Linked DNA regions of Homo sapiens: region 2 is linked to region 1. A link means that fine-mapping ties the variant in region 1 to the expression of a gene that starts in the linked region. Tissue or cell type: lymphoblastoid cells. Region 1 holds a variant in brackets; the other region holds the start of a gene. All regions are shown on one strand. Distances are from middle to middle.

The links.
Region 2: it holds the start of DAAM1, and the variant in region 1 is fine-mapped to the expression of DAAM1 in lymphoblastoid cells (TwinsUK, PIP 0.95).

The regions. Positions count from the first base shown.
Region 1 is chr14:59,220,141-59,236,445 of GRCh38, forward strand. The region is part of intron 1 of DAAM1 (dishevelled associated activator of morphogenesis 1); the gene reads left to right. Among named protein-coding and RNA genes, the nearest start is that of DAAM1, 40 kb to the left of the region's middle. RefSeq lists a silencer at 251-545. The variant G/A (reference allele first, on the strand shown) is at 7,785.
Region 2 is chr14:59,180,026-59,196,330 of GRCh38, forward strand. It overlaps DAAM1 (dishevelled associated activator of morphogenesis 1), which reads left to right and starts at 8,642. Exons shown (of 25, transcript NM_001270520.2): 1 at 8,642-8,743. It overlaps LOC107984642 (a long non-coding RNA gene), which reads left to right. Exons shown (of 2, transcript XR_001750928.1): 2 at 3,638-4,222. It also overlaps the pseudogene PPIAP5. RefSeq lists enhancers at 8,145-8,384, 9,165-9,924, 9,635-9,794, 10,225-10,274 and silencers at 8,855-8,994, 9,055-9,274.

The DNA of each region.
Region 1 (16,305 bases):
TTTGTTTTGCCAGAAGCTTCTGGCAGGAAATAGAATGATAAAGGAAGAGATACACAGAAGTCAGAGAATTGGCGGCTCTATTCTCAGGTGTAATGGAACTTAATTAAACTTTAAGCTCCTAAAAGGCAAGGGTGATATGTTTTACTTTGTTACCTATACTTAACCTATAAGTGGCACATGGATTAACTCTAGAGCAAACATGCTCTATGTTTGCTGAGTGGATTGTTGTTTGGTCTTATTTTTGCCAACATTTAAGGGAGGTAGAAGTTAAATATTCTGTATTAGAAATAAGTTTTGCCTAGTTTTGAAGAATGAACTGGCTTATGACATGGTTTCCTCAATAGCCACAATTATTGCCCCAACAATACTTACTTTATTAGTCTTTGTTTTCTCAAGGAAACAGGACCAATAGGAAATCTGTCAAGGGGATTTATTGTAGGAAGGCCAAGGAGTCCCGCCATCTGCCATCTGCAAGCTGGAGAACTAGGGAAGGTGATGGTGTAATTTAGCTGGGTCTAAAGGCCTGAGGACCAGGAGAGCCAATAGCCAATGGTGGTGCTGGCAGAGGGGGATGGGGATGACTTACTGCTGGTGTGAGTACCAGAGCCAAAGACCTAAGAACTAGGGGATCTCCAGTGTGCAATGGAAGGAGAGGATAGATGTTTCAGCTCTAGGAGAGTGAATTCACCCTTCCTCTGCCTTTTTGTTCTACCTGGGCCCTAAACCGATTGGATGATGCCCACGCACATTGGTGAGAGAGGATCTTTCCTGAATCTACAGATTAAATGCTAATCTCTTCTAGAAACACTCTCACAGACACACCCACAAATAATGTTCTACCAGCTATCTGGGTACCCTTTAACCCAGTCAAATTACACAAGTCTACCTTGTCAACTTAACATCCATACACATCCCCTTAAACCATACCTAACCTCCAAATAAAGACAATGACAAGGTCATAATTCCACCTATCAAGGTACAATGATCCTGTGTACAACTGAAAGTGCACTTATCCCTTCTCTGGAAGTGGAGGTGAAGTCCTTGAGTGATGTTTACTCCTCTCCTGAGACTCTGTAACTTAAATAGTATAGAAAATTATCATTACTGAAATACTGACATAAAGTCATTAACATCTTGTGTGATAAGGGAATAAGAGAGGAAGGAAAACAAGGATATTTACTTAATATATGTTTATATACACACAAACGTATTCATAACAAAATAGGGAGGAAATACTCATGGTAATTACAATCTTCCTTTCTGTAACTGGTCACATGGTCACAGATGGTATCATAACTAGCTTTCCTACTACTCATTCTGTATTCCCTTTGCCTTCAGCTGGTTATGATTCTTTATCTGGTCGGGTGGCTTAAACCTTCATTTCTGAAGGGTCTGGATCATTGGCAGTTCTGCCTGGATTGGGTTGTTGTCATTTTTCATTGGCCTTAGTTGCTGGGCATGGTAATACTAAGAGAAGCTCTAAACGATCTCTTGTATTCCAGACATACTTTTCCTTACCTCCACTGTGGAATAGTAGTCCAGTTTCTTCTTGGTAATCTGGATGGGTCACTCCAGCCAACACTGTAACTCCTTTCTTGTCCTGCTGACTCAGAGGCATGAGGAGCCCAAAGTGGCCTGATGTCCTTAACTTGCATTTCAATGGAATTATTGTTGTGTCTCCTGCTGGAAGCATTCTTCCCTCTGGAACTAAGGCCAGCAGAGCATAAAGTTGTGGGAATAGGAAGCAAACATTTTGCCAGTGACCCACTAGGCGTAATGGTGAGTGGTGCCACCCACTCCCATTTCCACTCCTGATTCCTATACCTGTGAATCTTGGCTGTCAGAGAAGCACTACCATATAGCAGATGCTGATTCAGAGCATATACAGTCTTCTGGCTAACCTTGCTCCAAGCCCTGCAAGGTGTTGTCAGCTACGTAGCATGTAACTGAGTCTTCAGAAGGTTGTTCCATTGTACAATCAAATCAGCTACTTCAGGATGGTGCTTTATGATGGTAGGGAACATGGTAAGACTATTGAATTCCGTGAGTTCGGGCCCCTTTCCTCATTTTGTGGTCTGTGAAGTGAGTTGCTTGGTCAGAAGCAATGCTTCTTATTCACTATGATGGTGAATAGGGCATTCTGGAAGTCCATGGTTGGTGATTTTGGCAGAGGCATTGCATGCAGGAAAGGCGAATTCATCTCCAGAGTCAATGTCCATTCCAGTAAGGATAAAACACTGTGCCTTCCTTGATGGAAGAGGTCCAGTGTAATCAACCTGCCACCAGTTAGCTGGCTGATGACCCTGGGGAATGGTGCCATAAAGGGGGCTCAGTGTTGGTCTTTGCTGCTGGCAGATTGGGCACTCAGCAGTGGCTGTAGCCAGGTCAGCCTTGGCGAGTTGAAGTCTGTGTTGCTGAGCCCATGCCTAACCTCCATCCCTGCCACCATAGCCACTTTGTTCATGAGCCACTGGGCGATGACAAGTGGCTGGGAAAAGAGGCTGACTGGCATCCATAGAATAGGTCATTCTATCCACTTGAAATCCTCCTCTGCTGAAGGTTACTCTTTGGTAAGCATTCACATAGGAAACTAATATCTTCATGTTTTTAGCCCATTCAGAATGGTCTGTCAACATACTTCTCCCCCAGATTTCTTTGTGACCGATTTTCCAATCATGTCTGTGGACATCCAGCCATGCCATTGGCTACAGCCCATGAATTGGGTATATAATTGCATGTCTGGCCATTTCTTCTTTCAAGCAAAGTGCACAACCAGGTGGACTGCTGAAGTTCTGCCCACTGGGAGGATTTCCCTTCACCACTGTCCTTTGAGGATGTCACAGGGAACGGCTATAATACTGCAACTGTCCACTTTCAGGTGGTGCCTGCATGTAGTGCAGAATCATCTGCAAACTAGGCCCAAGTCTTCTCTTCCTGTGTCAGCTGATTGTAGGGAATTGCCCATGAGGCCATAGGTGCAGGCTGGGACTAGAGAAGACAGTGTAGCAGGAGTGGGGACTGTGGGCATTTGAGCCATGATGACATTTAACTTACTTGTGCCTTCAGGATCTGCTTTCGCCTGATCGTGTATATACCACTTCCATTTGATGATGGAGTGCTGCTGTGCATGCCCAGCTTTGTGGCTTGGTTGATCATATAATACCCAATTCATGATGGGCAGTTTGGGTCATATGGTAACTTGGTAGCCCATGATTAAGTGCTCATTTTCTACCAAGGCCCAGCCCAAGAGCTGTCTCTCAGAAGGAGGGTAGCCATCTGTAGGTGATGGCAACACCTTATTGTAAAATCCTAAAAGCCGGTGCTGCAATTCATTTGTAGGATCCTGCTGAAGAGTCTAAATGGCATCTATGTCTGCCACTGATAGACACTTCAGGCAATGTTGGAATCTGCTGGATCATATGGCCCCAGTGGAAGAGCAACTTGCACGGAAGCCTGGATCTATTGCAGAGCTTTATCCCATTCTGGGCCTCATTCAAAACTAGCAGCTCTTTGGGTCACTCAGTAAGTGGGCTAGAGTAACACGCCCAAATGCAGAATATGTTGCCTCCAAAATCCAGATGGGTCCACTAGTCATTGCACTTTTTGATGGTAGGAGGGGCCAAATATAACAACTTGTACTTCATCTTGGAAGGGATGTCTTAACATGCCCCACACCTCTGGACCCATAGGCATTTCACTGAGATGGAAGACCTGCATTTTATCAGATTTGTTTCCTGCACTCTTAACACACAAATGTCTTACCAGTAAGTCTGGAGTAGTTGCTGCTTCTCACTCACTAGATTCAGTCAGCATAATGTCATCAGTGTAATGGTCCAGTGTGATGTCTTGTGGAAGGGAAAGGTGATCAAGATCCCTTCACACTAAATTATGATGTGGGGCTGGAAAGTTGATGTACCTCTGAGGCAGCATGGTAAAAGTTATATTGTTGGCCTTGTCAGGTGACAGCAAACTGATTTTGGCTGGCCTTGTGGACAGGTATGGAGAAAAGGGCATTTGCTAGATCAACAGCAGCATACCAGGTACCAGGTGATATGCTGATTTGCTTAAGCAATGAGACCCCATCTGGTACAGCAGCTGCAATTGGAATCACTGGTTTGTTAAGCTTATGATAGTCCACTGTCCTTTTCCAAGATCCATTTGTCTTCTGCACAGGTCAAATGGGAGAGCTGAATTGGAAGATATGGTGGGAATCATCACCCCTGCAACTTTCAAATCCTTGATGGTGGCACATCTCTGTAAACCCTCTAGGAATGCAGTATTGCTTTGGATTTACTGTTTTCCTAGGTAGAGGCAGTTCTAATGTCCATTTGGCCTTTCCCACTGTAATACTTTGGAAGCACGTAACTTGTTTGATTTCACAGGCTTACAGCTGGAAGGGAATTTGCCTCAGATGAATCATACATTTGAGTCTTCCCTATATCTGATTTAGATGGCATTTAGATGAGACTATGGACTTTAAACGTTTGAGTTGGTACTGGATTGAGTTAAGACTTTTGGGGCTATTGAGGTGGAATTAATGTATTTTGCACGTGAGAAAAACATGAATTTTGGAGGGGCAGGGGCAGAATGCCATGGTCTGAATTTGTTTTCCCAAATCTGTATGTTAAATCTTAATCACCAAGGTGGTGCTATTAGAAGGTGGTGTCTTTAGGAGGTCATTGGGTCATGATGGCTCTGCCCTCATGAATGGGATTAGTGTACTTCCTTGCTCCTTCCACTGTGTGAGGGAACGGTGCGAAGGCACCATTCCATGAACCAGAAAGCAGCCCCATACCAGACATCGAGTATGCTGGCACCTTCACCTCACACTTCCCAACCTCTACAACCTCTAGGACTGTAAGAAATAAATCTGTGTGGGTTTTTTTTTTTTTTTTTTTTTTTTTTTGAGACGGAGTCTCCTTCTGTTACCAGGCTGGAGTGCAGTGGCATAATCTCGGCCCACTGCAACCTCTGCCTCCTGGGTTCAAGTGATTCTTCTGCCTCAGCCTCCCGAGTAGCTGGGACTACAGGCATGCGCCACCAGGCCCAGCTAATTTTTGTATTTTTAGTGGAGACGGGGTTTCACCATGTTGGACAGAATGGTCTCAATCTCTTGACCTTGTGATCTGCCCACCTCTGCCTCCCAAAGTGCTGGGATTACAGGCATAAGCCACCGTGCCCAACCATAAATTTGTGTTTTTAAAAAGTTACCCAGTCTAAGGTAATTTGTTGTAGCAGCCTTAATTGCCTAAGACTATGAATCTGTTGTTGATAGTTAATAGCTCTCACAATGAAGCCAAAAATAAATGTGATTAGTGAGGCAACACTGAAGCAAGTGTTTCCCTGTCTAAAGCAAGTTGGGACTTGAGCCTCCTCTTTCTGTGCCTTTGATTTGCCTCTCCTCCATCCTACTCCATGAATTTGTTTAGTACCACTTCTTCCATTAGCTGGTGAGGACACCTGAGGCTAGGTACAATGTGGGCTCTGGGATTCTGGATTTGTCAGGGTGGTGCAGTAGAGTGCTCACAGAGATCTGGCGGACAGAGATCTTGATTTGAGGCTGTCCTTGGGCCAGCTTTAGCCCTGCTGGTACAGATTCTGGGCAAGGTTTGATCTAGTTTCCTTTTTTGTAAAGTATTAAGATGCCTGTTGTCCCTGACTACTGAGAGGGTGCTTGCGAAGATCGAAGGAGAAATAGTACATGGAATCACTTTGCATAGCACTATAAAATGTAAGATCATGCTATTAAAAATAATATGTTGCCCATGTATATCTATGAATTGATATATATATTAATTGAACCCTCTTACTAATGTGGCAAGAAACTCAAGCCCTACGACATTGGGGCAACTAAGAACAACTCTAAGGAGTCTAATGCAACATATACTCGAAATGTGTTTCAGTTGCCTGATGATAATTTTTTTTTTTATATTTGAGTAGTCAACCTGAGACCTCTTATTATTTTCAAGTAGTTTCAGACTGGAACTTAGGATACTTTTCACTGGAATGCATTTGGTAGAATATCCCCTGGGACTTTCAGCTTGATGGAGGGATATTGAACAGATACCTACTTCCTTAGTATATTGCTCTGTTTACTGACTTGGTTTGTACCTCTGTAAGAGCATAGAGAAGGCACCAAGTAGCACCAAAGGGGATATTTCTTTGTTCTTTTCCTTTTAGTTGATATATCAGAATTATTTTGGTTGCAAGCAAGAGAAACTAAATTTAAGACAAACACACACACACACACGTACATAGCAGAAGAATATGGGGCAGTCTTTGTATCTGTAAGGAAGACTGGAAAGCATAGGAGACTTTGGGCATTTAGGGTTCCAGGAAGAAAGTCAATTTCTCACATCTTAGGTCTGCTCAGCATCACATTTCTAGCAGGATTGGGGGTGGGATGGGCCTGACATGATACCAAGAGTGCAGGGAATGGAGGTGGGTCATTCCTTGTAAAGTCAATCTCTGTATGCTAGGCAGGCAAAAACAACAACAGATTTCAGTAGGATTCTCAGTTGTCTGAAACTAGAAGCAATTTAACGTGCTTATTCACTAGCATGGGTTAAGCTGCCTTTTCATTTTTGCTGAAGTAGAAGTTTAGAAAGATGGAAAAGGGAAGGATCATCACTAGATTGGGAAACATTTACCCTGCAAATGCAATAGGAGGGCCCTTTCATTAGAACCTGGGAATGGACTGGGACACTAAGTAGCATCCCTGTACTATTTTAAAGTCCTGTGGATGGCTACATAGGTTGGCATTGCCCAACTCCAGTCACATGAAGTGCAGCATGAATAGTGCCTCTGGAGTTGTACAAGTTATAGTTCCACCTTTCCATGTCTCTGTTTGTCAGATTTTTCCCCCACCTTGTTTTCTACTTTAATTAAAATGCCTAGCATACATCTGTAGAATTTCCAGTAAAACTGACTGTTTTGAATTAAAATATTGAGTTGCCCAGAATAAAATGATTATATGGTATACCTTTAAAGTGCGTCTTTTACATTCCAGTTTAAGCTTCTGGTTCTTTACAGACTCCCTTACAAATACTGTTGGTGCTTTCATAAAGTGACTTGTGTACAGAAATAGGCTTACATGTGAACAAGGATGGTGTGAACAAGGATGGTGTGGTGTACCTTTTCATTTCCTTTTCTTTGCCCCTTACTCCTGAAAGTATGCTTTCAGGGAATAGGAGGGGAAAAGTCTCTGGTTCCCCATTACAGACTGACTATGTAGGTCACCTTCTTGTTATCTTACGTAGTTTCACTGAGACGGCCATGAGATTGTGAGACCTGTGTTTGTGTGAAGGTCCTGAAGGACTTGTTTGGGATGGCCAGGTACTAGAAGTATGATTTGCAAGTTTAATTTGTTCCAACACCTAATATTCCTATAGTATTTATCTTGTGCTGCATAAAATATGCAGAAAAATGGGAGGATTCACATATAGGCTTGGATTCTCCCCATGTCTCATTATCTCGATTATGTGTCACCTCGTGCTTGTTCCACTTTTTCCAGTTTTCCAGACCAGATCTGGTGCTCCAGAACATGATTAGGAGAAGCTGTTCACATTGTAAGCCCTTTCACTAAACTTGATTCTTTTGAGGGTAGGGATAGGTTGTGTTTCCATCAGTGCTGGGCACACAGAGGACACGTAGTCCAAATGTGTTTGAGTTCATAGAGCACCCATAGGGGCACCCAGGACTAATGAATGAATGGTACTCCTTGTTCCACAGGCAGGCTATCCCAGTGAGACGCGGGGATTTCTTACCCCTAGTCATTGCTACCA[G/A]TTTGTATCTCTGCCACACACCGAAACAGTTGAGGCAGGAGTCTTCTAGAAAAGGTTTACCTGCAAGTAAAGACAACTTAGAGCATAGAACTTGGTTACTAGTAGAAACCCTTTGAACTTTTTTGAAGAAGTCCTGGAATTACATGTTTCAACCCACAAGTTGTTTTTTCTTACCACTTTTTTTTTCTTCTAAATCTTAAGGGAAGAAAAAAAATCATAGGCTGTAATAATGAAATCTTTTAAATTTGTGGCATGATGGGAAAATGTAATCACAGTGTCAACATTCTGTCATTCTCTATTCATCTTTCTTTATGGAAAAAAATAATTACGGTGGTTTTCACTGACAAAGTTCCAAGGATCTAATGGTTTCCCATGACATAAGTTAGATGTTAAAGATGTGTAACCTATAGGTAATATCAGCTTCTCAGAAAATTTAGAAATGATACTCTTGCCCAGTATTGTGTCTCCCTCCTCCGCTCCCCAACTTCCAAGAAAAAAAACTAAAGGAAGGGGAAATTGTATTTTTACTATTGGTTGAAAATGGTTCGGAGTATCACTTGACTTTTAATGAAATCTGGAAATTCACTTAACTCCAACTGCTTTGTCTTCCCACACATTTCGAATGAATGTTAAAAGGAAAATACCTCTGTAGAAACAGGGCTATTTTTAGATTTCACTCATATATTTGGGTTTCATCACTCAGATTCTTTTCCCTCAGGGCCAGAGAGTCGTATTTGTGTGTTCTGTGCTTGATGGCTTTTTCTTATTCTCCACTCAGAACCACCTGGAGGCCAGCACACTCAGTCCACATGTCCACTTATAATCTGAATAAATCATGTATTTTCCTTGCCTACCTTTTCCCTCTGCCTTTCCCCCAAGTGTTGTAGATCAAAAGGTTACTTTGTTTTGGACTTAGCTATGGTTTTAAATAATTTATTTCACCTGGATTCTAGTGGCAGTCCATTGGTAGAATGGATACTCTGTTTCCGTCTTTTCCCTGAGTTCTAAAACACTTCAATTTTTGATTGACTTTTAAAAGTTACATTGTATTTAGAAAATGTTAGAGAAATAGTCTAACAAATTCCTTTTAATGAGGATTTGGTTATGAATATTGTAGTTCTGATTAGCAAGCAAGTATTAAAACTAAAAAGCATTTAATGGGCTGATTTTGAAGACTCCTCGCAGGGTGTTTCTTCCATGTGTGCCATTTTGCCCAGCCCTACATGTCAGCAGTGGAAGATATTTTGATTTAGTATGTTTTTACCAAAGACACTCCCACTTTTCATTGAGCGAATGATGCATTTTGTAGTGTGTTTTTCATTATGGTTAGAGGAGATCTTCCTTGAGACCAGTGTGTCATTTGGCTTTTGATTTTTGTGAGTTGTTACCTCTTTAGTCCTAAACTGTAACTTCATCGTGCAAGGATTTAACCCTAAGCATCACCCTAAATGATGTAGCATTGCATGTCAGGTATTTACTAATTCGTCTTTATGACATACTGATATGTTTTAAAAGCCTATATAATACCCTTGATTTATAAATTCACTTCACATTGCTCTTCAGAGAAGGTGTAGGTAAAACCAAGAATAAACATACAAACAAGATTAAAATGAAGACCCACACTGACTTACTATCTGTCCTGGCCCTTTGTGTATTTATTCTACTCTCATTTTTGAAGTAAATCCAGTAGGAAGATTTCTTCTTTCTTTACTTCCTAAGAGATGGCCAACAGTGGAGTTCTAAGTTCCAAAAACATGGTAACAGTAAATAAAGTAGTGTAAAACCTGGTTGATTAAACTTCTTGGTTGAAATTAAGTAGAAGGAGGCTTAATCCCACCTTGTGGGTTAGTTTCTGCTTTTAGCAAGCCCTCAGAGGCACTTCAGTGAAGGCATGGCTCTGGCTGGTGGTTTCCATCCTGATAGGTGGCCATGGCTATTTTCCTGTCTATAAATAACTGTTCACCAGGTTGAAGTGAATGCCAAATAAGCTTCTCCCACCACCACCCATCTTAATAGTAGAATGTTTGAGATAATGGAACAGTGATAAGGGTAAATAAATTTAGCACTGTCAACCTACCAGCATAAACCTTAGCTGATTTTAAATTTAAGGCCCACTATTAACTCTCTTACCCTTGCAAATTGAATTTCAGCTGTGATGTAGTTGAGACAAACCACACAACAGATCCGTCATTTCTCTTTGTGAAACAGCAGGTACCTGGGTGTGCCTCTTACCACTTCCTTACAAATGGGTCCCCTCAGGTGGCTGCAATGGAACTAGACTCCCAGTAGCCTTTGTTACTTGGAAGTCTGATTGGGGCAGCACAGAGACTCCTGTAACTGGAAGCAAACACTGCAGCCGAGGGGGGTGATGCTTAGAGGCTTTTTTTTTTTTTTCCCCCCACAAGCTAGGATTCCCTTACCCAGGAGGCATTGGTGTGCCACGGGGTTAACATGGAGCCTCTTCCTGGGCTGGGTTTCTTTCTATCCAAACAAATTAAATACTTAAAAAATATAACAGATACTAATTAAATTCACCAGAGACTACTAAGTTATGTAAATATAAAAAGCATTATTCATTGCAAGTTCTCTCTTATTTGTGGGATCTAAAAATCAAAACAGTTGAACTCATGGACTTAGAAAGTAGTAGAAGGATGATTACCAGAGGCTGGGAAGGGTAGTGGGGGGCTTGGAGGGAGTGGGGAAAGTTAATGGGTACAAAAAAACTCAGAATGAATGAGACCTACTATTTGACAGCATAACAGGGTGACTGTAGTCAATAATAACTTAATTGTGCATTTTAAAATAACTGAAAGAATGTAACAAAGGATAAATGCTTGAGGGGAGGGGTGGGAGGGGTACTCCATTCTTCATGATGTGATTATTTCACAGTGCATGCCTGTATCAAAACATCTAATGCACCTCACAGATATGTACACCTATATACCCATAAAAATTAAAAATAAAAAGTTTGTAAGCATTATTATATGGCATGTGGGATTCGTTCCACTATCTTTGTTGCCAGAATTAAAAATGTTCTCTGTTGAACAACTGTGCACTTGCTGTCAATGTCTTATGCTGCTTAAAATTATGTAGACACTAAGACAGATCAAATTCAGATATTTCAAGCAGGCAGGTGATGTACTGAACATGGGAAGGAAAGTACATATTACTTTGTTTATTAAACACACAAGAATATATTCATTTCCACTTCCTTTTTCTTCAAACATATGGCACAGCATATTATTTTCCCACTTAATATTTTTAATTGACAAATCATAATTGCATATATTTATGGGGTTCAATGTGATGTTTTGATTTATGTATACAATGTAGAACGATTAAATCAAACTAACATCTTATATTTCCCCACCTTTGATACAGATGTAAGCACAAGAAATATTTTACTTCAAATTTTTCTAAGTAGGAAAAGTGCAAGCAATAATGATGAAAAATGGTGAATGAGCCCTACCCTTGAAGTTAAGAAAGGGTAGGGAGTAGTGGGGACCATGGCAAACTCAGCATCAGATTTGTTGATGCTTGCGAATGAAAGTCGAGCTATTTGGCAATTAATAAAACCACATTTAAAAACACGTTATTATTTTTTAAGGGAAGTATTTTGTTTAGTGATTAAGACGTTGGCTCTAGAGTCAGACAGCCAGGGTTCAGATCTCAGTTGTACCATTCATTATCTGTGCAACCTTGGCAGTATACTTAATCTTTGGGCCTCAGATCCTCACTGTATAACATGCCAGTAATAAAACTCACATCACCGGCTTGTAGTTAGAACTTGATGAGGAATCCATTGGAAGAACTCAGTGCCTGGCATACAGTATGTGCTTAACAAACTTTAGCTACTATATTGTTGGTCAACACCGAGGAGGTCTACCAAAGCATATAAGTGGACCTCTGCAGTGGACTAAATATGTCCTTTCAAAATGCCTATGTCAAAATCCTAATCCCAGTGTGATGGTATTTGGAGGTGGAGTCTTTGGGAGGTAATTTTATGAGGACTCAGCATGTGAAGTGGTGGGCACATTTGAGAAATATACTATTTGTTGAGAACTTAGTAAAGTATGCTCCAGCCTGAGAGCTAGTACTATTTTATCCCCACTTTACAGAGAGGAAACAGATAGCAAGTTAATTCTCTTGGGAAGTTGTGCCCTGGATTTCTCCAGCAGTGCTGCTGCTTAAAGGTTGGCACTTCAGCATATTTCTCACCTTGTTTTTCTATAGCCTATTCAAGTCTGGTTATAAACACCCATACCTGTCACCACACAGCATTTACCATGAGGAGAGCTTGTTCTGCAGATCCAAGCATTGTCAAGGCCAGTTGGATGTCACACCTCCAGAGAATATCGAAACTACTGGTTCTTCCTAAATGTATACTGGTCACTGAGAGTCATAGTTTTATCAGAGAACCTCTCTGTCTTAGCCTTCCTGCAGAAGACCTTTGACTTCCTTTATTCTTGAATCTAAAAATGCAAAGTTGTCTTTTCAGATTCATAAATCCCCTAAAAAATCAGAGGGGCAAGGACATTAACAAAGGAGATGGATATGGTGGCTGTTCACCAACATGTTGAAATTCTGTACCCTGAAACAGTCTTCTGTTTAGTTTGGAATGATAAAATAAGCCATGTAGTATGTCTCTACAGGTTTCAGAGGAATATATTGCATTTCTTTTTTTTTCTTTCTTTTTTTAAAATTTTCTCTTTTTTTTTTTCTTTTAAGTTCTGGGATACATGTGCAGAATGTGCAGGTTTGTTACATAGGTATACATGTGCCATGGTGGTTTGCTGCACCTATCAACCTGTCATCGAGGTTTTGAGTCCTGCATGCACTAGTGTTTGTCCAAATGCTCTCCCTCCCCTTGCCCCTCACCCCACAACAGCCCCTGGTGTATGTTGTTCCCCTCCCTGTGTCACGTATTCTCATTGCTCAGCTCCCACTTATGAGTGAGAACATGTGGTGTTTGGTTTTCTGTTCCTGTGTTAGTTTGTTGAGGATGATGGCTTCTGGCTTCATCCATGTCCCTGCAAAGGACATGAGCTCATTCTTACGGCTGCATAGTATTCCATGGTGTGTATGTACCACATTTTCTTTATCTAGTCTATTATTGATGGGCATTAGGGTTGGTTCCATGTCTTTGGTATTGTAAATGGTGCTGCAATAAACATACATGTGCATGTGTCTTTATAGTAGAATGATTTATATTCCTTTGGGTATATACCCATTAACGGGATTGCTGGGTCAAATGGTATTTCTGGTTCTAGATCCTTGAGGAATCACCATGCTTTATTCCACAATGGTTGAACTAATTTATATTCCCACTAACAGTGTAAAAGCGTTCCTATTTCTCCTCAGCCTTGCCAGCATCTATTGTTTCCTGATTTTTTAATAATCGCCATTCTAACTGGCAAGAGATGGTATCTCATTGTGGGTTTGATTTGCATTTCTCTAATGATCAGTGATGATGAGATTTTTTTCCTATATTTGTTGGCTGCATAAATGTCTTCTTTTGAGAAGTGTCTGTTCATATCCTTTGCCCACTTTTTGATGGGGTCGTTTGTGTTTTTCTTGTAAATTTAAGTTCCTTGTATTTTCTGGATATTAGACCTTTGTCAAATGGGTAGATTGCAAACATTTTCTCTCATTCTGTAGGTTGCGTGTTCATTCTGAGGCTAGTTTCTTTTGCTATGCAGAAGCTCTTTCGTTTAATTAGATCCCATTTATCAATTTTGGCTTTTGTTGCAATTGCTTTTGGTGTTTTAATCATGAAGTCTTTGCTCATGTCCATGTCCTAAATGGCATTGCCTAGGTATTCTTCTAGGGTTTTTATGGTTTTGAGTTTTACATTTAAGTCTTTACTCCATCTTAATTTTTGTATAAGATGTAAGAAGGGGGTCCAGTTTCAGTTTTCTGCATATGGCTAGCCAGTTTTCCCAGCACAATTTATCAGATAGAGAATGCTTTTCCCATTGCTTGTTTTTGTCCAGTTTGTCGAAGATCAGATGGTTGTAGATGTGTGGCATTATTTCTGAGGTCTCTGTTCTGTTCCATTGGTCTATATGTCTGTTTTGGTACCAGTACTGTGCTGTTTTGGTTACTGTAGCCTTGAAATATAGTTTGAGGTCAGGTAGCATGATGCCTCCAGCTTTGTTCTTCTTGCTTAGGATTGTCTTGGCTGTGTGGGCCCTTTTTTGGTTCCATATGAAATTTAAAGTAGTTTTTTTCTAATTCTGTGAAGAATGTCAATGGTAGTTTGATGGGAATAGCATTGAATCTATAAATTACTTTGGACAGTGTGGCCATTTTCATGTTGATTATTCCTATCCATGAGCATGGAATGTTTTCCCTTTTGTTTGTGTCCTCTCATTTCCTTGAGCAGAGTGGTTTGTAGTTCTCCTTGAAGAAGTCCTTCACGTCCTTTGTCAGCTGTATTCCTAGGTATTTTATTCTCTTTGTAGCAATTGTGAATGGCAGTTTATTCAAGATTTGGCTCTCTGCTTGTCTATTGGTGTATAGGAATGCTTGTGATTTTTGCACATTGATTTTGTATCCTGAGACTTTGCTGAAGTTGCTTATCAGCTTAAGGAGTTTTTGGGCTGAGATGGTGGGGTTTTCTAAATATACAATCATGTCATCTGCAAACAGAGACAATTTGACTTCCTCTCTTCCTATTTGAATACCCTTTATTTCTTTCTCTTGCCTGATTGCCATGGCCAGAACTCCCGATACTGTGTTAAACGGGAGTGGTGAGAGAGGGCATCCTTGTCTTGTGCTGGTTTTCAAAGGGAAGCTTCTAGCTTTTGCCCATTCAGTATGATATTGGTATGGGTTTGTCATAAATAGCTGTTGTTATTTTGAGATGTCTTCCATCAATACCTAGTTTATGAGAGTTTTTAGCTTTATTGAGAGTTTTTAGCATGAATGGATGTTGAATTTTATCAGAGGCCTTTTCTGCATCTATTGAGATAATCATGTGGTTTTTTTCCTTGGTTCTGTTTATGTGATGGGTTGCATTTATTGATTTGTGTATGTTGAACCAACCTTGCATCCCAGGGATGAAGTCGACTTGATCACGGTGGATAAGCTTTTTGATGTGCTGCTGGATTTGGTTTGCCAGTATTTTATTGAGGATTTTTGTCTCGATGTTCATCAGGGATATTGGCCTGAAGTTTTCTTTTTTTGTTGTGTCTTTGCCAGGTTTTGGTATCAGGATGATGTGGGCCTCATAGGATGAGTTAGGGAGGAGTCTCTCCTTTTGAGTTGTTTGGAATAGTTTCAGAAGGAATGGCACCACCTCATCTTTGTACCTCTGGTAGAATTCAGCTGTGAATCCATCTGGTCCTGAGCTTTTTTTGGTTGGTAGGCTATTAATTACTACCTCAATTTCAGAACTTGTTATTGGTCTATTCAGGGATTCGACTTCTTCCTAGTTTAGTCTTGGGAGGGTGTATGTGTCCAGGAATTTATCCATTTCTTCTAGGTTTTCTTGTTTATTTGCATAGAGGTGTTTATAGTATTCTCTAATGGTAGTTTGTATTTCTGTGGGATCAGTGGTGATATCCCCTTTATCATTTTTTATTGTGTGTATTTGATTTTTCTCTCTTCTTTATTAGTCTAGCTAGTGGTCTATCTATTTTTTAAATTTTTTCAAAAAACCAGCTCCTGGATTCATTGATTTTTTTGAAGGGTTTTTCATGTCTCTGTCTCCTTCAGTTTTGCTCTGATCTTAGTTATTTCTTGTTTTCTGCTAGTTTTTGAATTTCTTTGCTCTTGCTTCTCTAGTTCTTTTAATTGTGATGTTAGGGTGTTGATTTGAGATCTTTCTAGCTTTCTGATGTGGGCATTTAGTTACATAAATTTCCCTTTTAACACTGCTTTAGCTGTGTCCCAAAGATTCTGGTATGTGAATATATTGCATTTCATCCAAACCAGCCAATTGCTTTGAAAGAGTTATGGTGGAACACGCATGCAGCTGGTGCACAGAGGTGGAGCGGAGACAGACCTCACTTCGTCAAATGAATAGCTTGATATACTTAGGAAAATAGACTTGATATGCTTAATAATGGGAAATTCCCTTTCTTAAAAAAAATCCCATATTAAATGGTTACTCCATGGCTTTATAATGAGAAGAGCCCTAAATTTTGTTCCCCCCAACCCACTTTATTTACTTATTTATTCATTCATTTATTTATTTTTGGAGAATTGCCTCTTTAGTATGAAGTGTCATTAATAGTGTTCTTTCCTGAGCTGCTAGGCATTTGAATCTTCAGGTAATTTTTAGCAGATCAAAGGGAAGAAGTTGTAGTAGAATGACTAGTTTTCTATCTAGTAGGTGTTGTTTTGTTTTGTTTAATAACTAAGGACCTGAAGATGGGAAATCATTAGAATTATAATGCTCTCTGTTACTCATCACACATGGTCTGGCTCTTGCTAAGCCCTGTGACCTGGCTTCTTGCCTCTTCCTCTTGTCCACTGTGCTTCAAGTACATTCGCCGCCTTTTTGTTTTTGAGCATG
Region 2 (16,305 bases), 40 kb before region 1:
TTCTGCCACGAAACAGAACACGTGTGCCAGGATAACTCCCGGCAAAGAAAGTTACAGAAACCAAAAGAGTAAACAGAATTCTTTCTGTCCACTCAGCCCATCTTTTACTTGTAGACAAGGTTTTGCCACACATGGACTGCCCATTTTAGGGTTAAAGAGCCCATGCAGAGATTTGACCTTTAAAGAGAAAAAGAAAATGAAAATTGTATGACACCCTCAATAGGGGATATTTTGAAAGCTAACTTGGGATGGTTTGTCTAAAATGTATGACCAGGGAATTTTTACCAATGGAAGGTCGGCAGAGTCTTCATCTGAGAATTCCTGATCAAGAGTGACAGGGCTGGATACCTAGAGGCAAGACCTCAGCCTTCACACCCCAAAACAGCACCATGGCTTCCACATAACTCAGGAAACACCCTCTGTTTTTTATTTCCATTATTTTTGAAAAGTTTCAGGTTGCTATATTCAGTTTTTTGATCCTATCTATATTTCCTAATCAGATGTTCAACAGCTTTAACATCTATGTGACTATGACATGCAAAACACTGGTGCTGAGACCTAGAAAGTCAGTTTTCCCTTATTTGTGTTTACTGAGTATTATGGGTTGAATTGTATTCCCCCACACTCAATTCATATGTTGACTCATATGCTGAAGTCTTAATCCCCAGGATCTTAGAGTGTGACTTTATTTGGAAAAAGGGTCTTTGCAGAGGCAGTCAAATTAAAGTGAGGTCATTAGGGTGGGTCTTTTGCTGTTTTTTTGATTTGGTTTGGTTTGGTTTGGTTTTTTCTTGAGACGGGGTTTACTGCATCACCCAGGCTGGAGTGCAGTGGCATGATCTCAGCTCCCTGCAGCCTCAACCTCCCAGGCTCAAGTGATCCTCCCACCTCCGTCTCCCAAATAGCTGGGACCACAAGCATGACCACCAAACGTGACTAATTTTTGTATTTTTTGTAGAGACGGGGTCTTGCTATGTTGCCCAGGCTAGTCTTGAACTTCTGAACTCAAGCAATTCTCCCGCCTCGGCCTCCCAAAGCACTGGGACTACAGGCATGGACCACTGCCCCTGGCCAGGGTGGGTCTTAATCCAATATGACTGGTATCTTTATAAAAAGGGTAAATTTGGTCACAGAGATAGACATGCATAGAAGGAGGATAATAGAAAGTAGATGGCCATCTACAAGCCAAGGAGAGAGGCCTGGAACACATCCTTCCCCTACAGCCCTCAGAAGGAACCAACCCTACAGACAGGGCTTGATTTTGGACTTGTAGCCCCCAGAACTGTGAGACAATACATTTCTGTGGTACTTTGTTACAGCAGCCCTAGCAAACCAATACACCTAACATATGCTATAGAGCCACATTGTTCTTCCACGTCACAGTGGATGGCGAGCCCTGGGGCCACATCTCCTTCCTTGAGCTGTTTGCAGACGGTTCCAGAGATAGCAGACAACTTTTGTATTCTGACTATTATGGGTTGAACTGTATTCCCCCACACCCAATTCATATGTTGATTCATATGCTGGAGTCCTAACCCCCTAGATCTTTGACCACTGGAGAGAAAAGAAGTATTCCTGCTTTCACAGAATTATTCCAGGGGTTTTATGCCAGGGTGGTGACTTCATATGCCATAGTGGTACTGACACAAGTCCATCTACGGGGAGAAATTTGAGGATGAGAACTTCATCCTGACACATACAGGTCCTGGCATCTTGTCCATGGCAAATTCTGAACCCAACATCAACAGTTCCAGTCTATCATCTGCACAGCTGGGCCTGAGTGGTTGGATGGCAAGCATGTGGTTTTTTGGCAAGGTAAAGACAGAAGGAATATCTTGGAAGGCACAGAGTGCTTTGGGTCCAGAAATGGCAAGACCAACAAGAAGATCGCCATTGCTAACTGTGGACAACTCTAATAAATTTGGCTTGTGTTTTATCTTAGCCACCACACTGTTCTTTCTGTAGCTCAAGAGAGTATCCCTCCATCCCATCTGTTTGCAATGTCCATTATCTTTGTGCTCTTGTTGCAATTCTTTGGGTTCCATATTTTCCTTATTCTCTAAGTCTAGCTGGATTACAGAGTTAAGTTTATAATTATGAAATAAAAAATAAATAACAAGAACAAATGGTTATCTTCCCAAAATAAAATATCACATAGCACTCAAAATGCTAATGATGTAAAAAAATCCAATGAGAGGGAAGATGGTGGGGAGTGGAGGGAGAAATGTTAATATTTCTCCCTCGTTTGTTGGCTCATGGGTGATTTTTATGGCCTTAAGTAGCAATATTTTCTAAATTCTTTACAAAAGACATGAATAACCATTATAATTAGAAAAATATATTAAAAAACTTGGGTACCAGAATACATAAAACAATTTCTTATGGGAATGATCTTGAGATAATTTGGCCTAGTATTTAATTCATATAAATATTTTATTTTAATATGTATATACATAAGTGGACACAAATCTTAAGTGTACAGCATGATAAATTTTCACAAAATAAAGTAGCCACATAAACAGCACCCAGATAAAAAATACCAGCATCCCAGAGACCTCTCATGTTCTCTTCTATTACTATCCCCTAAAGGTAACTGTTACTCTGTCTTCTAACACTATCAATGGCTTTACCTCTTTAAAAAAATGTTACATAAGTGGAATCATACAGTATATACTCTTTTTACTCAGTGTTTTTTGGTGCGGTTCCTCCTATTTTCACACGTAGACATAGCTTGTTAATTCTCATAGCCAGATAGCACGGGTTGGCAAACTATGGCTTACAGGCTTACAGGCCAGCTGACTGTTTTGTAAATAAAGCTTTATTGGAACACAGCCATACTCATTCCTTTATGTCTACGACTGCTTTCATGCTACAATGGCAGCACTGAGTAACTGTAACAGAGATCATATGGCCCTCAAAGCCTAAAATATTTACTATCTGGCCCCTTACAGAAAAAAGTTTGCCAACCCCTGCGATATAGTATTATGTGCCTATGCCACAATCTATTTATCCACTGTACCGTTGATGAGCAACTGTGTTGATTTTAGTTTGGGGCTATCATGGAGTTGCCAGATTTAGCAAATAAAAATACCTAATGTCTCCTTAAATTTGAATTTCAGACAAACAATAAATATTTTTAGTGTAAGTATATCCCAAATATTGTATGGCAACCCTAGGCTATATGAATACATGTATGAATATATGAATAGCATAACTATGAACATTTGAATAGGTAACTTTTGGTGAACACATATACACAACTCTGTTAGGTATATTGCTAGCAGTGAAATTGCTCAGCCATAAAGGATGTGTATGCTCATGCTTAGCAAATACTAATAAAGATTTTTCCAAAGCAGTTTTACCAGTTTACAGTTTCACTAGCAGTGTAAGATTTGTTTCTTATCTTTGGCAATGCTTAGTATAGTTGGTCCTTTTAATTTTAACCAATGTGATGGGTATGTAGTGGTATCCCATTATAGTCTTAATTTATATTTTCCTGCTGACAAATGAATTTAAGCATTAGTTGGGCTGTCTTTTTCGTGATGGCCAGTGATTTATTATATGTTCTAGCTTCAGTTGGTGAACTAGAACAATTATATATCCTTTCTCTTTGTCTCTTCATTTTCTCTCTCTTCAGAATTTGACTTGGGGAAGAAGAAGAAAAGAAGGTGGATTTCAGCATGAAAGAATCTAAACAGTCATTAGTGAACAAATGTGTAGCAGTGCTGTCCAACAGAACTTTCTGAAGAAGTAATGGGAATACTCTGTATCTGTGATGTCCTGTATGGTAGCCACTGGCCTCACACAGCTCTTGAGCACTTGAAATGTGGCTACTGTGACTGAGTAATTGAGTTTTAAAATTTCATCAATTTTAATTAATTGAAATTTAAATAGCCACATGAGGCCAGTGACTACAGAATTGAACAGCACAGGTCTCACAGATGGACTAAGAGTAAGCCAGTTACGAAGAAGCTTATACAGGAAGACCGGCTAAAATATGTCAAAGGAGAGTTTCTCTTTCTGAACTCCGAGGAGCTGTTCAAATAAGACTGGTCTGGAGAGAGTTTTGGGTGGCTGGAGGTATTTTCACCCCTCCACTTACTGTGCCTAACCTTAGTATTGTTGCCATTCTCACGTTTCTGTATGACTCCATCTCCCTTGTTCTGTTCCGATGCCGCTTTTTCAGTTTTTCTGAGCTCTCAATTAAACACAGTGAAATGAATCTCCTCCAAGTGCCTTTTTAGTGACTAAACTGAATAGTTGGCTCAGAATGCTACAAAGTCCTCTCCCTCAGGAAGAACCAAGTTTTACCATTAAGATCCTGATAGATTTACCAGCTTTAACTGACACCTCTTGGGGTGGCTTCCAGATTCACACTTTCTCCTTTTTGAGAAGACTCCCAGACACACGGGGATAGGTCCTGAGTGATCATATTTGAGCCACACAATCTTGTTACGCTTGCTGTAGATCCATGGTTCAAAAACATTCAAGTGTGTCTGACTCAGCTGGAGGACTTGTGAAGACACATGTGGTGGGACCCATCCCTAAAGCTTCTTTTCCAGTAGGTGTGTAGGTGTGGCCCAAGTATCTGCATATCTAACAAGTTCTCAGGTGATACTGATGTTGCTGGTCTGGGGATTGTACTTTAAGATAATTAAGTCAGGGACTGTTGCCTGACATAGGACAATAAGCTTCTCTCAGGAATTTGAAATTTGGAACAAAGAGCTCGGAGTCTTAGTGCTAGTAGACCAGTGCTCTGGAGAGGTCTGAAAACTACCACTGCTTAGGTTCCTAGTTTGTCCAGTTCCTGTTTGTCTTGAGCCTTGGTTGTCTAATCCTTTGAATAAATCCCATTACATTCTTTGTTTTGCATAAACTGGCCATAGAAAGTTCTTGTTGTCTGCCCCTAAAAGAACTTTAACTAAAGTGTGAGTATGTCAGTTAAAGTGTTCCACCAAAAAAACAGAAACGATTCTAAGTAGTATTTAAAACAGAGATAATGTGGTCCAGAGAATTGGCCATACTGTGATAGAAGATCTGTGAAGCCAAACACCCAACGCAGAGATTAGCAACAGCAGGAAGCTATCTCTACCGCTAGGCAAGAGGGACAAAGGGAGAAGGTGGTGTTACAAGGCCAGGGTGACCTGGAAGAAGCTGGAACCATGACAGACCAGTCCAACAAGGAAAATGCTGCTGCCACTGCCAGAAACATCACCCAATGCACCTCTGAGGAAGTGAAGAAATTCCCTAGCTTCTCTCTTCCTCCTGCCTACAATCCCCCAGCAGTGCCTCTCCATGCTGGGAAGCTTGGGAAAAGCTCCCTATGTTACTGAGGACAGCAGGGGATCCTGAGGAAGAACATATAGATCTGAGAACAAGTCAAGGACTGGCACTGTTCAACCCTGAATTTCTCATTTTAGTCTTCAAAGTACATTTTGCCTACTTACCAATTAGAGTGAGATAATATGTGCATGCTATATTCTTTCTAATAGTCTCTGTTAAGAATAAGAATTTTTAATTTAAATGGGTTTTTATTACCTTGTTCCATAATTAGGCCTGACATTTCTGAGATAATCTTTTGGGAAAAATTGCAAATGATATCAAGAACTAACATTTGTATAGTGCTTTTCAGTTTGAAAAATATTTTTACATGCTTCATTTAATTTAATCCTCAAAAACCTCATGAAATATATATTATTATTAACCCTATTTTATAAATAAGGAAACTGAGGCTCAGAGAGAATAAATAACACAAATATGCAAAGTAACATGGATCACAAATAATGGAATGGCACAATCCCAAACCTGGGCTTAGCATACAACCTTGATTGTTGCAAAACACCAAGCTATTGCATGAAAGTACACGCAAGGCTACACACTTTCATTTCTTTCTCTCTGTTGATAACTCATTTCCTCCTTTATCTAAAATCCAGTATCTAGAGTAAAACCTTATAACCAGCACTGAGAGAGGTGATTTTAAAAGATCATCAAAATGCTTCGTGGTGCCTTCTCCTCATCCCCTACCTGTATAGACTGTCAAATCTGTTCTTAGTGGTCTCACAGGTTCCTAATTAATAGGCCACGATTATGGGATGAGGCAGGGCTTTTCATAAGGTCTTCAGAACAGCAGCAGTTATGTAAAATGAAAAGATAGAAAGTAAAGAAACCCATTTTGACTGAGAATATCAATTAGCTAGACAGAGTGGGTGTTTTTGATGATTTATGAGACTACTTGGCCACCTAGAAAAAATTAAATGCAAACATACACAATGATTGTGTATGAAAGTGAGTGAGAGAGAGTGTGTGTGTGAGTTTCCTTCTGTCTCCAAAGAAGTGGTTAAGCCTCCTCTGCTGCTAGTTCTACAGACTGTATTTCTCATGTTAAAGAGCCATCTTTGTTTCCCTTGGTTACCAATGAAACTGTGCAGGGATCAGTTCAAATCCATCACCACTTGCAGATAATTTTTCCAAACACAATGCCCTCTTTCTACATCTATTATCTATATTTATAGCTATTAGATAGGAAGAGCAGTTCACATGTGCATTTCTCCACATTTATGTGCTTACAGTCTATTGTGTATGCTGTCCTTTATATGGAGATGACTATGTCACATGGCACATCCCTATAATATTGTTAAAGAGAATGGAATTTTTGTTTTCAGACAGACTGCATCTTCTCCTTCATTACTGAAGAGCCAAGAGAACTTGTTGTAAGGTGATTTCTCCATTAAAATTACTCCTCAGAGTGTGCCTCAGTAACATACTTTTATCTACAAGGATAAGCCCTGTCTTAACAGAAAGGCTCCACATTCAATTTATTGACTCAATAAATTTCAGGCTCACTGATTATGTTTCAGTCTAAAAGCTTTACACAGTTATAAAATTAGAAGAGCCTTTAGAATCATCCCAGGTCAAGTTTCTCTCTGAATATTTTTCCACCATGAACTGCGTTACATTAAGTCTACCCATTAGTTAGAATATCAGTGATTATATCCTTGATCTGATGGCCAGGGGAAAATTTATATTGTCAGAGTTCATTTTAGATAATATTTGAAATGGAAGAAGTAGCTGAGGACAGAAGAGCAACATTCAAAGCTATCTTCTTTCGGGGGAGAAAAGTGGGTCTTGTCTATAAAGAACAGGCTTGTTAAAAGAACATCAGAATTCATCGCTAAACATCTCTCTGAGCAAAACAAAGCATTTCCTCTCCCCTGAGATCCTCAACTAATTTCATAAATATTTTTTCACTTGAACCCAACTTAGTGTTGCAGAATGAAAGGAGAAAATAAATGATAAGAGTTCCACCAACACTTCAGTAGGGAGTTGTCTGAAATCTTAATTGTGAACCTTTTTTTCACAAGATGCACAGTCTTCTAGAGATTTTGCTAGTGGAACGGGTGTGTGAGCTGATCATTATATGGAATTGAGACACATCAAATGCCATTAAAATTTACATTTACAACTCGAGTAACTAAATGCATTGATTCTTTTCATATTAAAAGACACTTGGTATTCACTGAATAATGAAAAATGCCACGGAAAAAATTATGTATTAACAATACAACCTGCCTAAAGGGTCAGAATTCTGCTACACACCTTTTGCTTACCTTTAAATAAATATTTAGGTGTGTTAAGAGCAGGGCAATTCTTGAACGGCACGATGTTGTTTGGTTTAATGTCTTTATAAAAATATTTGAAAAGGTATGGAAAATGAGGTGAGAGTGTTGTGGATTTAAAAACATGTGTATACATAGATACACAATTATTAAAACTTTAGACAAGGACGTTTTCTTCCTGGGAGTGGAGAGCCACCAGCGCGGGAAGTCTGCTGCAGGGATGAACAAAAGCATGGCTGCACGATAGTATTATCTTTGCAGCAGCAGCAGGCGCCCTGACGGAGGGTTGCGGCGACTGTCTAGTCTATCACACCGCACTTCTGGTAGTGACAACCTCCGTTATTCTGTCAGCTCAGCCGACTAAGTGGTTCCCCGCGTTCTGCCTGGTCACCTTGTCTCCGTTAAACGGGAAGCAGAAAAGAGAAAGGTGAATTGAGGGGGTACAAGGAGATTCCTCCGCCTTGGGACCGGCGTCGCCCCATCCTCTGGAAGTGTTGAGCGGGGAGAATTCGAGGACCGTATTTAACCCAGAAAACAGTAAGCCCTCTGAATTAGCTGCTACGCCTGGGGAAGGCAGAAAAGTCTTAATCGTCCCTTCCCAGCAGGGACCAAGAAAGACCAGTTAGAGCGAGCCTGGCCGGACCACGCGAGCCCCGGACCTCTCCGATCCTTCAGAGCCCGCGCCGGGCAAAGTAGAGGTCAAGTCAACACACACGACCGCAGGGCAGCCCTCCCACTCTCCCGTGCGGTCCGCAGCTCGGCTTCGGAACGACCACCGCTAACACTGCAAGGCTGTAAGGCTGGGAGGGGGCGGGTCCTGAAGGGGGCGGGAATAAGAGGCGGGGCAGAAGGGCGGAGGAGTGTGTCGGGAGATGTAGTTCCGCGAGTCCCGACAGCAAAGCTGTCCCGGCTCCGCTAATAGATTGGGACCACTACTCCCAGGAGTCTGCGCGCCCGACCGGAGCGTCCATGCGCAGTGGGAGCCACTTTGTATCCTATCAGGCGAGGAGAGGGTGATGTCACCTGCGAGTTAGTAACCTACGAGCGGCTGTGAAGGAAACTGTTTAACCGGATCCCATTGTACCCAGAGTGCAGAGCCGCCTTTCCAGCATGCAGGGGCTGCTCAGGTAAGGGGGACGCTCCTCCTTGCCCGCCGCACTCATTCATTAAGTGGCACTGCTCAGTGGTGCGGGGGTGGGCGTGCTTCCGTGGGCTGGGCGCTGGGTTCGCGGCGCGCCCTCCTGCTGCCTCCCCGGAGCTCCCGGGCCAGTAGGTAAATATTAAACCCGTCCTTCAGGTTGGGTCTGGGTGGGAACGGGACCGAGACAGCTCTCGGCTGCCTAGCTGGGGGTGGGAAAATGGCTGCAGCGCAACGCAAACCGAGGCAGCAGGGAGGAAGACGCCCCCAAGGACTGGGGTCCCTCCCTTTCTTTCTAAGGCGCCCGGCTGGCCGAGGAGCTGGCGGGGTAACACTCGCCGCCTTGCTGAAGGCTCCCCGGGGCTGGGGCCGCGGGTACTGCAGCGGCGTCCGCGAGCTCCCGGCCCGGCGGCTCCGAGAGGGAGAACCCCGAGGCAGGCTTGGTGGACACGGCGGTGGCGACAGGGAAGGAGGGACTCGTGTACCCGTTCGCGTCCGAGCAGAGCCCCCAGTGCCCCTGGCACCCTCACTTCCAGCCCCATTCGAAAGGGACGGAGCGCCTGTAATTCAGACTAAGTTGGACCTAAATGTTTCAAAACAGAGAGAAGGGAAATCGGGCGTTGCGGAGGGAGAGCAGGGTGTTGGCGGCCGGGGAGGCTGCGCCGCCTGCGGACCCGGTTGTGAGGCACCGCAGAGGGCTTTTGCCGCCCGTCCCTCTCGGGAGGGCGCATCTCAGTCTCCACGGTCCCTTGGTGTAGAGCACCTGGGCTGGGGCGAAGCGCCTGCCCTGAAGCCCTGGGCCAGGAGGTGGTAGCGCGGGGGTGGAGGTGTCGGATAATCTAATGATTAGGCTCGCTGTGGGGCAGGAGGGCTGGATAATCGGGTTTACCCAGCTGGTTCTGAAAGCCAACTGCTTGTGATCGGCTTGCCCTCTGAGTGGAGACGTGCAGGAGGCCCAGAGCTCTCAGTCCTCTGGATGTTCTTTGCCTTTCCTAGTACCTTCATTTGTTCGTTTACTCATTCATCAAACCCTGCTAAGGTCTCAAGTTGTTCACGGCCTGGCTTTGCGGAGCTACCTCTCGCCCCATAACATATTTAGTGATGCCTGAACTCCATTCCCCTCTCCTTCATCTCCACTTTCTGGAGAGCATCAAGAGCAAATGCCACCGTGACCGTTTTGCTGGTAGTTTCTTGAGATTCGAGCAGGACCCAGTGAATCGAAGCGGAGTTGCCTGCAAGATGAATCCCGTTGCCATGGCGACTCCTGCCTTCGGAATCTTAGCCGCTGCCACTGCTGTTTCGATTCGATGTGGCTCTGCGGGCAGCTGGGAGGGAGTGGCTAGTGGGTGTGGTCAAACGCTCGCCCTGGCCCAGCTGCTCTCTCCTCCTCGCCCCTTTCACAGCCCCGGGACTCTCCCCTTTCTCTCCTAAATAGCTTGGACACAGTTCTAAACCCCTTTCCCTTCCCCGTGCCACACCTCATCACGCCACCTCTCTCCCTGAAACTAATTGTTTGGCGCCTTTTTCCTGAGGCAAACTCTGAAAATTATAATTTGAAAAATCTCTTCCCCCTTTCGGGCTAGCCGCATCATTTCCCCAATAAGGTAGTTTATGGTGTTGGAGGCAGCTTTGTCATGAAAGGCGCCCTCCCCTGTTGTGCATAAAGAGAGCTCTCTGGTCACCAGCAAAGGCCCTCAATTTGCTCTAGGTGCAGCTGATTGGAAGTGATTAGGGACAATTAATAACGGCTGGAAGACACTGCAGTCCCTTGTGGTTCTCATAAAATCTAAAGCCAGGCTAGAGGGCGCAGGTCCTTGAGGGTGAAGCATGCAGGGCCATAACCAGGAGCCTTGGGTCCTACTCTGGCTCTGTCAGTCACTGGCTACTCCACGTTGGGATTAACCCTTTACCTCTGGGAACCTCAGTCTTCTCTTTGGTAATGTGAGGAAAGGGTAGAGAGGGTTTCCTAACGTTAATTCTAGGCGCAATGGCCTATGATTCCAAGATAGACTTGGTCATTGTCCTTTTTCGTCCCCGACCCCAAAGTAATCTGAAGTTAAGGGTTTAAACTTGGCTTCTGATACTGTGCCGTCAGGTTATATGGACAAGGCAGCTATGTGACTATTTATAATACTGTTTATACTACCACTACTATTATTCCAGTATCTGGACCCTTCTAATTATACTTTAGTATTATAACTAATTGTTTAGGTTTTGCCTTTTTATAGATTCCTAATGAATGCAGTTATTTGTAATTGCATTAAGTGTAATTGACATATAAATATTTTGTTTCCCCTCTGCTTGCATTTTATACCAATGTGCATTATCACAGATGTTGCAATTATGGGGGAAAGTGTGTATATGAGAGTGTCTGTGCATGTGTATCCATAGTCAGGTAAATGCTTGGGATTGCTGTGTGCTTGGTGGTTGACACTTACGATCTTATTTTAAGTAGGTAGCTACATCCCCATGAGGAAACAGGATCAGAAGTTGTCACTTTTTTCCTGGAACTTACCATTAAATGAAAATTTCCTTCATTCTTCTGCTTGTCTACCCTACTAGATTATAAGCTCCTTGAGGGCAGTGTCTTTGTTTTGTCCTTTTCTGTCCCCCCAGCATTTAGAGCAGTTTGTTCATTTGTAGGTCTTTAATAAATATATGTTAAACGAATATTAAGTAGCAGAACTATGATTGGAGATCCAAGGTCTATTATTTCCACTGATAGTTCTGTCATCCGTGGTAATATTCCCCTTAGCTTTTCTATCAAGCAGTTTCATTTCATCATAAACCAAAACTTGTCTGGCATAAAAGGCCTTCTATGTATTTGAAATAGACATATTTCCTAATTATTTGCTTTTAGAATACATTCACTCACATCGACTGTTTCTTTGTAGTTACAATTTCTTATTACCCCTGAACCAGGCATTTCTAGATTTCTCTCAGTTGCACTATCCTTGGCCCAGATAATCTTCCCAGGAGGTGTGTGACACGTGAATAGGGAGAGACACCAAGAGAAAGATACCCAGAAGCCTTTGCCAGGCCACCAGTGTCTCCCAGAAGAGCTGGGAGACAATAGTCCTCTCACCTGAGGCAGAGCCGTTCCGTAAACAGGATCAGTTGTTTCAGGCTGGTTGATGTGAAAGAAATGTGAAAGAACATTTGCCCAATATTTGTAACATGTTACCATCCAGTAGTCTGATTCTGTGGGTTTTCAGGAGCATAAATTAGTAAATTAGTGAGGAGGTGTGATAATGAAGAGGGTGTGGTGGGTCACATCCTTGGGTGGTGCTTACAGGAGCTCCATGAATAGGTGCTAAGGAATTTGAATCCTGGCTTTCTTGTTTTGTGGACATGTTCTGCTTGTTAAGGGGTGTGTGTGTGTGTGTGTGTGTGTGTGTGTGTGTGTGTGTGTGTGGTTTTGAGCTACTTTGTTTAAAAGGCTGCTTTTAGTGTTGGCACTATGGTCCTTAAAACAAATAAGGTGTTTACAAGCAAAAGTTCTGATTGAAAGTGTTTCATTTTGTAAATATTTGGGAGATGGCATAAAGAGAAACTTGAGGTCTTGTGTGAAAACACTTTAAAGTTGCAGCTGTTGGACCAGAGGAAACATGCTTTTCCAACAAAGCTTGGTATCCTTGAGTGCCCTAGGTGTTTGGTTCAGGAAATAATCACAGAGCTTGTAACTGCTGTGGGGCCCTCCCTGGCTTCAAGCCGTGCTCTGGTATTTCCAGTGTTAAGTCTATCCTTATATTGCCGGAAACAAAGCAAGGTGTCCAACTTGGGTTAGCAAACTTGTTTTCTCTCTAGAGGGGACACCAGTCAAAATAGAAGTTCTATATTCTGTTGTGATTTTTTCCTCTTTGGATGAGGAATATGGTGACTTATTTTGGTATTACAATTTCTAACTTGGTAATAGAGGTAATATTCTAAGTGAATACCAATCTTAAGTACGCACAGCATCTGTTGTAGTGGTTTCAAGACCTCAAAGTTTAGGCCGGGCGCGGTGGCTCAAGCCTGTAATCCCAGCACTTTGGGAGGCCAAGTCGGGAGGATCATGAGGTCAGGACATCGAGACCATCCTGGCTAACACGGGGAAACCCCGTCTCTACTAAAAATACAAAAAATTAGCCGGGTGTGGTGGCGGGTGCCTGTAGTCCCAGTTACTCAGGAGGCTGAGGCAGGAGAATGTCCTGAACCAGGGAGGCGGAGCTTGCAGTGAACGGAGATTGCGCCACTGAACTCCAGCCTGGACTACAGAGCGAGACTCCGTCTCAAAACAACAACAACAACAACAACAACAAAACCCTCAAAGTTTAGAGGAAATTGATTGCACAGGTACTATTTAAGAAACTGGTACTGAGAGCATTTTCTCTATTTCTGTATGTGGCTTGGAGGTAATGTCTGGTTGACAGATCAGGCTAGGGTGGATGATACCCCTCTTGAAGATGCATTCACTTAGCAAGTGTACTGTCTTTTATGTAGATTATATTATTTAGAGTGGCTGAGGCTGCTGATAGAGACCAGCGTTGAAGTGTGGATCTGAAGTTCACCCCCTTTCTCTGAGCTGTCACCTTGTTTGTAGCCCCACTGAAACAGGGACAGACGAACATGAGATTCAAGTTGATTTTAGTGACCTATATTTCATCCAGCAGATTTTTTTTTTCAGAAATAAAAGGTTACCTTTTAATTTTTTAGTATCCTTTCCACTGTTCTAGGAGCAGGGGGAGAACAGAGCATTTCAGGGAGAGTTTGCATTCATAGTCCACAAGTTTGCATACATAGAACATGTGTCTAAAAATGAACTGAATGTTAAGTCCTAGAAGCACAGCAACAAGTGTGCAGAGCCTTCCCCATCACTCCCAATTAATCTGGGGTTACCAAATACACCCTCAGCTTTGGTGAGCTTGTTTTCCTCATTGATGTTTAAGCGTTCCTGGTTTTTACTCTGTCTGTGACTTTCTGCAGTAATGGCTGTCCACGTCTGGAATGTGCTTCCCTCTGAGTGTCTGGATTATCTTGTGCTTTCATATCTAGCTCAGGTGCCACAGCTTCCACGAAGCCTTCCCTGCCCTTCCTCCTTAAAGCACTTAGCTTGACCACACAACACTTACAGCTAATTTGATACCGATATTGTATGTGAGGTGCCTACCTCATGCCAAGCCCTTTCTAATACTTTCCATGGGCTACGTCATTGACTGCACATAATTATACAAGATAGATACTTTTATTGCCATGTTCTAGATGAGGAAACTGAGGCACAGAGAAGTTAAAGAACTTGCCTAGCTTAGGCCACACAGCCTGTAAGTGGCAGACCAGGTTAGGGACTCAAGCAGTCTAGTTCTTTATACATCCTGATGTTGCCTGGTTTCTGACTTTCCGGCACGTTATTCTTTTCTCTGCAACTCGAGTTGGGGTAATCACAGCTTCCTTTGAGTCTCTTAATTCTCAGACAGTGCTGGGTCAGTAAGTCCTGGATTAATTGAGAGTAAAATGACTTCTTCATGTCACAGGTTCTTACAGCCTGATTTTCTGGAACAGAAAATGTTGTGTGAGATTAAAAATGTTGTTTTTGAGTATTTAAATGATAAAACTTTGGAGCTCTCCTTTGCTGTATGAACGATAGACAAATTATTTGAAAAAGGAAATGCTCTTATATTACAACTCTAAATCTGTTTGGAGCCTGTCCAGCATTAGACCTTATTTGTTAAGTGAGGTAACTTTTCACTGGGTTGAATCCCTCATCTGATAAAAGATCTTCTCACCCTGAACAGGGCCACAGAAGCCTGTGTTGAGAGTTAAGAGGGCCCATAATTTCTCAGCCTCCCTCTTCCCTGTAGTCTTTTAACATACATTGTGAAAGCTCTTTTGAAAAGAAAATAATGAACACTTGAGCAGTAGTCAAACATGTAATCTAATATTGGATAGCCTTAGATATTAAAATAAACTTTTTCCCCCCACCTCAGAAGAGATACTTTTATTTATTTTTACAGTGGAGCAAATTTGGTGCCAAATAAACAATTTCTATTCTTTTAAACCATAGCCACAGTTGTGAATTAAATGGGGAAAACCAGGGAAGCAAGTTCAATTTCCAATGCAGTTGGTGCGATTTCGTGACTTACAATAGATCTTTTCCTTTTGGCTTAAAACTAGATATTGTGCCACTTAGACAATATTTAATGAAGACAATTGACTAAAACACAAGGAAATAATAGGAAAGCTATGCCTTAACGGCATATTGCCAGGAAGGGAAACATGAAAACAAAAGGCTTGTTAGCCATTAGGCTACACAATCATAAAATTTTTTGAACAGACATTGATTTCAGAAGGTTTTTCTTTTTTCTTAATCATTCATCTTGTTATACTTTTTTTTTTTTTTTTTTTTTTGAGACAATCTTGCTCTGTCGCCCAGGCTGGAGTGCAGTGGTGCGATCTCAGCTCACTGCAAGCTCCGCCTCCCAGGTTCACGCCATTCTCCTGCCTCAGCCTCCTGAGTAGCTGGGACTACAGGTGTCCACCACCACGCCCAGCTAATTTTTTGTATTTTTAGTAGAGATGGGGTTTCACCGTGTTAGCCAGGATGGTCTCAATCTCCTGATCTCGTGATCCGCCTGCCTCGGCCTCCCAAAGAGCTGGGATTACAGGCGTGAGCCACCGCGCCTGGCCTCATCTTGTTATACTTTTTAAGTATGTCATTCACCTTTAGTAATAACCTGGGTTTATTCTGTTCTATAAATTACACCAGGATTGGGGTTTTAAGGCTACCTGTATTTCTGCTGGCACACAATTAAGGTCACCTATTAAACTGGTCTTTGTCATTTTTATGTCTAAAAAAAATACCTGCAGTGTGATTGGAAAATGTTGCCTATCTGATAGACTTCCTGAATTTAGGCTTACAAGAGTAGATAGCCCAGATCCTAGCTTTGGGCATTGTTGGGGTAATACAGATGCCCATCTTTTATTTTCTGAGATAGGTTCTTATATTCTGGCTTGTTGGCTAGCTCAGTTTGTTAGTGACATACAAACCAGGTCAAGGGCATGGGTTAGCTTTGCCTTGTTTTGGAGCCACAAACTGTACCTGTAATTCTAGTCAGATTTTTTCTGTATCTTTTTTTTTTTTAAATTAATCATGCTTTTGGGGACTAGACTGTACATTGTGGACATATCAGTGCACAGCTATCACTACTAAGGGCAAAAAAAGGTGCCATATTTTAAAGCGAACTGGTAGGAAAACCCTGTAAGTGAGAGGCAAGACTGCCAGCAGCTTGCTAAGGAACCGTATGCTTCTGACAGTTGTCCTCCTGTGAAGATTAGGTCAGGACTAGGGGCAGCTTCTTGAAAGTTTGCCAAAGCCAATAGCCTTGATCTTTTTCCTTTCTTGGCAGAATGACAGATGCCATCAATGTGTGTTTGGGTGCTACTTCTGGACTTACTCTTAGATAAAGTTCTGGATATTTGTGCCCAAGAAGAAGAGTAAAGGATGGTGGTCAACATTATTCACCAGATGAGATAGATTGTTCATATGTGCCTAAGCTTAAATTTGTATTAGTTTCA